Linked DNA regions of Homo sapiens. Changing the gene in region 1 together with any one later gene gives a genetic interaction. Each region holds a gene or a part of one and is shown on either strand. Other genes may lie near its edges.

Region 1 (3,500 bases):
TTTTTTTTTTTTTTTTTTTTTTTCTGAGACGGAATCTCACTCTGTCACCCAGGCCGGAGTGCAGTGGTGCAATCTCGGCTCACTGCAAGCTCCACCTCCCGGGTTCACGCCATTCTTCTGCCTCAGCCTCCCAAGTAGCTAGGACTCCAGGCGCCCACCACCACGCCCAGCTAATTTTTTGTATTTTTAGTAAAGACGGGGTTTCACTGTGTTAGCCAGGATGGTCTCGATCTCCTGACCTCGTAATCTGCCCGCCTCAGCCTCCCAAAGTGCTGGGATTACAGGCGTGAGCCACCACGCCCAGCCTATACAAATACAAATCTTTTATATGAAATGCTCAACCTTTTTAGAACTAGCCAGGATATAGTAAATAAATAATGTTATACACATTCTTATATCTAGATTAACTGAACCTAAGTCCTACATTTAGGATATGTGAAAATCTCAGGAATTCAGAAAGGCTTTTTTATTTACTTGTCTTCCCTTCCCTGTTGCCGCCACGTTAGATTATAATTAGAAGTCTCTGATTAGTCTCTGTGATTGCCCTTTTTGAACTAGAGAATGTGTAGTAGAATGTATAATTCCTGTAACTTTCTTTTAAAACTCTGAATATCCTTCATGAGGGTTGTCAATTTCTAAGCAAATGGTGTTTGTTAACTGGTGTTTGTTAACTATTAATAGAACCTTTGTATTTACATTGTAAAAGGATCATTAGTAGTAAGGGTCAGAGTTAAATTAGCAACTAATTTTAAGTGTATTTGGAGTGGCTCAGATATATGAATCTACTTTTTCAACAATAGATTTTATTAAATCTAAATATAGGCCAAGTATTTCTGATGAAAATTTAGCATTCAAATTGAGATGTGGTGTAAGTGTAAAATGCTCACCAAAATCAAAGACTTACTACCAGAAAAGGAACGTAAAATGTCTTATTAATACTTTTTATGTGATTGTATGTTGAAATGTTAAAATCTTTGATATTTTTGATGTATTCGACTGAGTATAATAGTAAAAAATTTAAAATAAGCAATTTGGTGACTAGTGGAATAGTTAAGTAATTTTAGGAAAACAGCAAAAATCTCTTGATTTCCTTTATTTTTCTTTTTATTATCATTATTATTATTATTATTTGAGATGGAGTCTCACTTTGTCACCCAGGCTGGAGTGCAGTGGTGTGATCTTGGCTCACTGTAACCTCAACGTCCTGAGTTCAAGCGATTCTCCTGCCTCAGCTTCCCAAGTAGCTGGGACCACAGGCACATGACACCACGTCTGGCCAATTTTTGTATTTTTTGTAGAGATAGGGTTTCACTATGTTGGCCAGGCTGGTTTTGAACTCCTGACCTCAAGTGATCCACATGTCTTGGCCTCCCAAAGTGCTGGGATTACAGGCATGAGCCACCACACCCAGCTTTTTTTAATTATTTTTTTAAGCCCAAACTTCACCATCTTGGTTTCCTTTATAACCCTCCTAGGAATGGGGCTTTAAACAAGCAGCTTAGCAAGGTAGCAGAGCAAACTATCTTAAAACTGGAGATTTTGATAGACAGGGCCTTTGAGTCCCAAACTAGCATTAGAAAATCTAATTCTCTGGCCGGGCACGGCGGCTAACGCCTGTAATCCCAGCACTTTGGGAAGCCGAGGCAGGCGGATCATGAGGTTAAGAGATCGAGACCATCCTTGCCAACATGGTGAAACCCCATCTCTACTAAAAATACAAAAATTAGCTGGGCATGGTGGTGTGTGCCTGTAGTCCTAGCTACTCAGGAGGCTGAGGCAGGAGAATTGCTTGAACCCGGAGGCAGAGGTTGCAGTGAGCCAAGATGGCGCCACTGCGCTCCAGCCTGGTGACAGAGTGAGACTCCGTCTCAAAAAAAAAAAGAAAATCTAATTCTCAACTGTAAGGTTCTATGGTCATTAATGATCTGAGAAATTGGGGGTGGTGGCATACAATTACATACACAGATTTATAAAATACGAGCAGTGATTCCCTAACTCTTCAGTTAGACTAAAAACATTTGTTTATAGATTGACAAACTTGTTTTGAATTTTTAAATTAGGTGACTAATAAAGGTACCAGAAGAATATGGCTGCACAAATACCAGAATCTGATCAGATAAAACAGGTAAGGTATTCTAATTAAGGGGAAAAGATTTTGCAAAAAAATGTAAGGTGCTACTAATGCCACCATGTCAGGCTGGGTGCAGTGGCTCACATCTGTAATCCCAGCACGTTGGGAGGCCCAGGTGGGTGGATCACATGAAGTCAGGAGTTCAAGACCAGCCTGGCCAACATGGTGAAACTCCGTCTCCTAAAAATACAAAAATTAGCTGGGCGTGCTGGCGCACACCTCTAGTCCCAGCTACGTGGGAGGCTGAGGCACAGGAATTGCTTGACCCAGGAAGCAGAGGCTGCAGTGAGCCGAGATCGTGGCATTGCACTCCAGCCTGGGTGACAGAGCAAGACTCCATCTCAAAAAAAAAAACCATGTCAGTGGTTTCACAAAACAATTGTTTCTATTTCATTTCCAAAATGGATATTAAATGTTATAAAGTGTACGTATTTTTCTTGTTCTTTTTTTTTTTGGACACAGTCTCTCTTTGTCGGCCAGGCTGGAGTGCAGTGGCACGATCTTGGTTCACTGCAACCTCCATCTCCCGGGCCCAAGCAATTCTCCTGCCTCAGCCTCCTGAGTAGCTGGGATTACAGGCATGCGCCACCACGCCTGGCTAATTTTTGTATTTTTATTAGAGACAGGGTTTCACCATGTTGGCCAGGCTGGTCTCGAACTCCTGACCTCAGGTAATCCGCCCACCTCGGCCTCCCAAAGTGCTGGGATTACAGGCATGAGCTACCGCACCCGGCCAAGCATATGTATTTTTAATCTGACTGATAATCAAGGAAAAATTAAATATTCAACTAGAAAATAAAACTATTCTGTAGATCATACTGTACCCATTTAAGTTAGCATAATAACTATGATTTCAAGTGTTATAGTATATTTTGTCTAAATATAAAATACCAGTAATTTAAGTTTCAAAGCATCTTTGTTTTAAAAACCAAATACTAAAGAACATTCTGGTTTGTTTGTAGTTTAAGGAATTTCTGGGGACCTACAATAAACTTACAGAGACCTGCTTTTTGGACTGTGTTAAAGACTTCACAACAAGAGAAGTAAAACCTGAAGAGGTATGAAAAGTGTTACTCACTAAAATTCTACAAGCCTTCATAAACACTCTAAGTAGGATCCCCTTAAGCATTTCACTTGTTCCTACTTATTACAGGAATTTAGACTACCTTTTATGTTCCATTGCTTGGAAGAACTGAAGCAGCCACTGAACCACGGCATTGAGTTTAACAGTGCCAAATTTAATGACAGTTACATTGTACCAAGTCAGACCATTTTAGAGAAGATGCCTGCAGCTGCTGAGTTACTGTTTCACAACAAAGATTCTTACTAATTAGCTTTCAGCCAAGATGGCCTACCTAGAGAAACTTGG
Region 2 (3,500 bases), on another chromosome or scaffold:
CCAGGCAGTGGCTGAACGCTAGGGTGTTAACAGGAATGAGAGGCGCAGTCGGCTGGGGCAGTGGTGGGAGCTCCAGGCCTCATCCTGACTCCAGATTCCATCGTTTCTTGCTTCTTTCTCTTCGGTGAACCTTTTGACCTGCAAGGGTAGCTGGGGGTTAACCTGCTACCCTCCAGGTTCAAATCCCGGTTCTCCTGTTTACTAACAGTGTAAGCCCAAGCAGATTTCTTGGCCTCTCTGTGCCTCAGTTTCTTCATCTAAAAATGGGGGAAAGAATAGGATCAGGCAGTTATCATAGGACAGAATAAATTAATATCCAGTCACACACCACACAATGATGAACCACGTACACAATGGTGCTGCCATAAAATTATTATTATTATTATTATTATTATTTTGAGATGAAGTCTCGCTCTGTCCCCCAGGCTGGAGTGCAGTGGTGCAATCTTGGCTCACTGCAACCTCTGCCTCCCGGGTTCAAGTGATTCTCCTGCCTCAGCCTCCTGAGTAGCTGGGACTACAGGCATGTGCCACCACACCCGGCTAGTTTTTGTATTTTTAGTAGAGACGGGGTTTCGCCATGTTGGCCAGGCTGGTCTCGAACTCCTGACCTCAAGTGATCTGCCACCTCGATCTCCCAAAATGCTGGGATTACAGGCGTGAGCCACTGCGCCTGGCCTCCCATAGAATTATAATACTGTATTTTTACTACACCTTTTCTTTCTTTCATGATTGTGTAGTGGCATGATCCTGGCTCACTGCAGCCTCAACCTCCCAGGACCGAGTGATCCTCTCACCTCAGCCTCCCAAGTAGCTGGGACCACAGGCATGCACCACCACACCTGGCTAGTTTTTAAATTTTTGTAGAGATGGGATCGTCTTATGTTGCCCAGGCTGGTCTTGAATTCCTGAGCTCAAGCAATTCTCTCACCTTGGCCTCCCAAAGTGCTGGGATTACAGGTGTGAGCCACCATGCTTAGCCTACTTTACGTTTTCTTTTCTTTTCTTTTCTTTGAGACAGAGTCTCGCTTTGTCGCCCAGGCTGGAGTGCAGTGGCGTGATCTCGGCTCACTGCAAGCTCCGCCTCCCGGGTTCACGCCATTCTCCTGCCTCAGCCTCCGTGTGTGTTACAGTGACCTACAGTATTTAGTACAGTCACATGTGGTCCAGATTTGTAGCCTAGGAGCAATGGGCTATGCCATATAGCCTAGGTTTGTAATAGCCTAGACTATTCAGGTTTGAGTTCACTCTATCACCTAATGGCACATTTCTCAGAGTGCATCCCCATGGCTAACTGACGCATGACTATAGTTGCGCTCTTATATTTAGTTCAGAATTCAGAACCTCTGCTTCCCTCCTGAGAGCCATCTCTGACTGTGCCAACTCAAAACAACTGCCCCCTATTTACCCACATCCCTGGACCTCCCCTCAGGGGAGTGTCTGAGTGGGCATAGGGTCTGTGCCCCCAGCTCCCTGCCCTCACCCTTGCCTTTCTCCCCACCCTCCTAGAAGTGAGTGAGTGTGGAACTGCAGGGCCCTGAACGGCCCAGGGCAGGGCATTGCTTTGCCTGACTTGCTGGGGGCCTTGGGACAGCCCCTTGCAGAGCAGGGAGACTTGGCTGGGAGATCTCCAACTTTCCTTCCCGCCCTCGCTTTTGGGGAGTCCCATGACTTGCTGTGTGACCTTCAGGGCGGGAGGAAGGGTTGAGAATCTGGGTGAGGCTCTCAAGGCTCAGGAAGGAAAGTACGATCGCTGCTTAAAAAAAAAAAATAGATTAGTTGCTGCTTGAAAAAACAAAAAAGCGTAAACCAACAAAAAAGCATAAACCAACAAAAAAAGAAAACCTGCTAGCCAAGAGCCCACCCCACCGGTGGGGGCAGCCTGGGCTCTTCGGGGCTGGGCAGGAGGGTGGGCGGAGGCAGGTGTGTCTGGATGACAGCCGTGTGTGGGAGAGACTTCATCTGGCATCCTCGCTGCCTCCTGTTCCAGCCCAGCCTTGGCTCTGATGCTGGCCCAGCCTTTCCCATGATCCCCTGGGGGGAAGAGAGCTGACCTTAGTGGGTGCCTCCTAGGTGCTGAGTACCTTCATTTACTCCTCCCAATTCTTCTCCAGGGAAGGTGCAATGCTTCCCATGTTAGGGTTGAGAAAGGCAGTTTCTGAGGAGTGAACTTATTTCTGGAGTCACACAGCTCCTAAGGGGAGGGGCTGCAGTTCAAACACTGGGGACTCCAGGGTCCACGCTTCCAGGGGGAGCCCGGGGAAAATGCTGGAGCTCCACGCTGCTGGCCCGGGGAGGCCGAGGCCCCAGCGCCCTGCGGAGAGCCTGCTAGGGCCTGGTGGGTTGGGTTATAGCACCCCTCTGTGGACACAGCTGGCCCTGTGATAACCTCAGCTGTGCACTGGAAAGGGTGGAAGGTAAGGAGGGGGCCTTCTGCCTCAGTTCGTCTCATTTCTCCTAACCTCTGTCCCAGCCTGACGCTGATAACCAGTTCCTGATCTCTGGGCCTGCAACCTCTTCCAAAAAGTCACCATTACCCCATTTCCCAGTAAGCCTCCATTAGCCTCAACCCCAGTCTCAACACTCGGCTTCAGCCTAGTTGTGACCCACAGCCTCGGTTGTGACCTCTCCTAATTCCAACTCCAAGTGCTCACCCCAGCCTCCCTCCCTCCCTCTGTCCCTCCCTCCCTGCCTCCCTCCCTCTTTTCTTTCCTGTCCTTTTTTTCCCTTTCCTTTTTGACAGGTTCTTGCTCTGTCACCCAGTCTGGAGTGCAGGGACGCAATCATGGCTCACTGCAGCCCCAAGCCTGGTCTCAAGCCATCCTCCCGCCTCAGCTTCCCACATAGCTGGACTACAGGTGCACATCACAATGCATAATGTGATAATAAAAAATGTGTTATCACAGTGTGATAATAAAAAAATATTTTATTTTATTTTATTTTATTTTGAGACCAAGTCTCACTTTGCTTCCCAGGCTAGTCTTGGACTCCTGAGTTCAAGTGGTCCTCCCGCTTTGGCCTCCCAAAGTGCTAGAATTACAGGTGTGAGCCACCATGCCTGGCCCAGGCTACTTGCATTACAACCCCAGTCTCAATTCCAAATCCACATCACTTTCTGCCCCAGTCACCTCCCTGGCCCCCTGTGACCTGTTGTTCCTGAGGAAGCAAGATGGGGTCAGATATAGGAGGACAAGAGTCCCTGGACCTCTCCTAAGGGTCTAGGGGGCCAGTCCAGCCCAGGGAGCCCTGGCCTTAAATGGACCTCCAGGACCCTTCAGGTGTGCTGTGGGCAGACCTGACTCAGGAGTGAGGAAGCCGCCTGCATGCCAGGCTTGTTGAAAAATTCACTGGGTTGCCAGTTAGGGAGGAATCCATTCTATTTTGTTAGGATGTGGTTGTACTGGAAACATGGGCTTTGTCAGCAAGACCGGAAATGCGTGGGTGAGGGCCTGGATCGTGACAGGAACTCATTTGGGAGGCGGCGGGGGGGCAGCCTGTCC

Evidence for each region.
Region 2: changes in TIMM9 (region 1) and MICOS10-NBL1 together harm fitness less than expected from each alone (positive genetic interaction), as found in Homo sapiens cells (one large-scale study listed by BioGRID).

Annotation. Positions count from the first base shown.
Region 1 is NC_000014.9:58,410,532-58,414,031, reverse strand, and holds part of TIMM9 (mitochondrial import inner membrane translocase subunit Tim9), read left to right. Parts: intron 1-2,060; 5' UTR 2,061-2,086; coding exon 2,087-2,125; intron 2,126-3,093; coding exon 3,094-3,189; intron 3,190-3,500. UniProt on the Homo sapiens protein: Mitochondrial intermembrane chaperone that participates in the import and insertion of multi-pass transmembrane proteins into the mitochondrial inner membrane.
Region 2 is NC_000001.11:19,648,979-19,652,478, forward strand, and holds part of MICOS10-NBL1 (neuroblastoma suppressor of tumorigenicity 1 isoform a precursor), read left to right. Parts: intron 1-3,500. UniProt on the Homo sapiens protein: Possible candidate as a tumor suppressor gene of neuroblastoma. May play an important role in preventing cells from entering the final stage (G1/S) of the transformation process.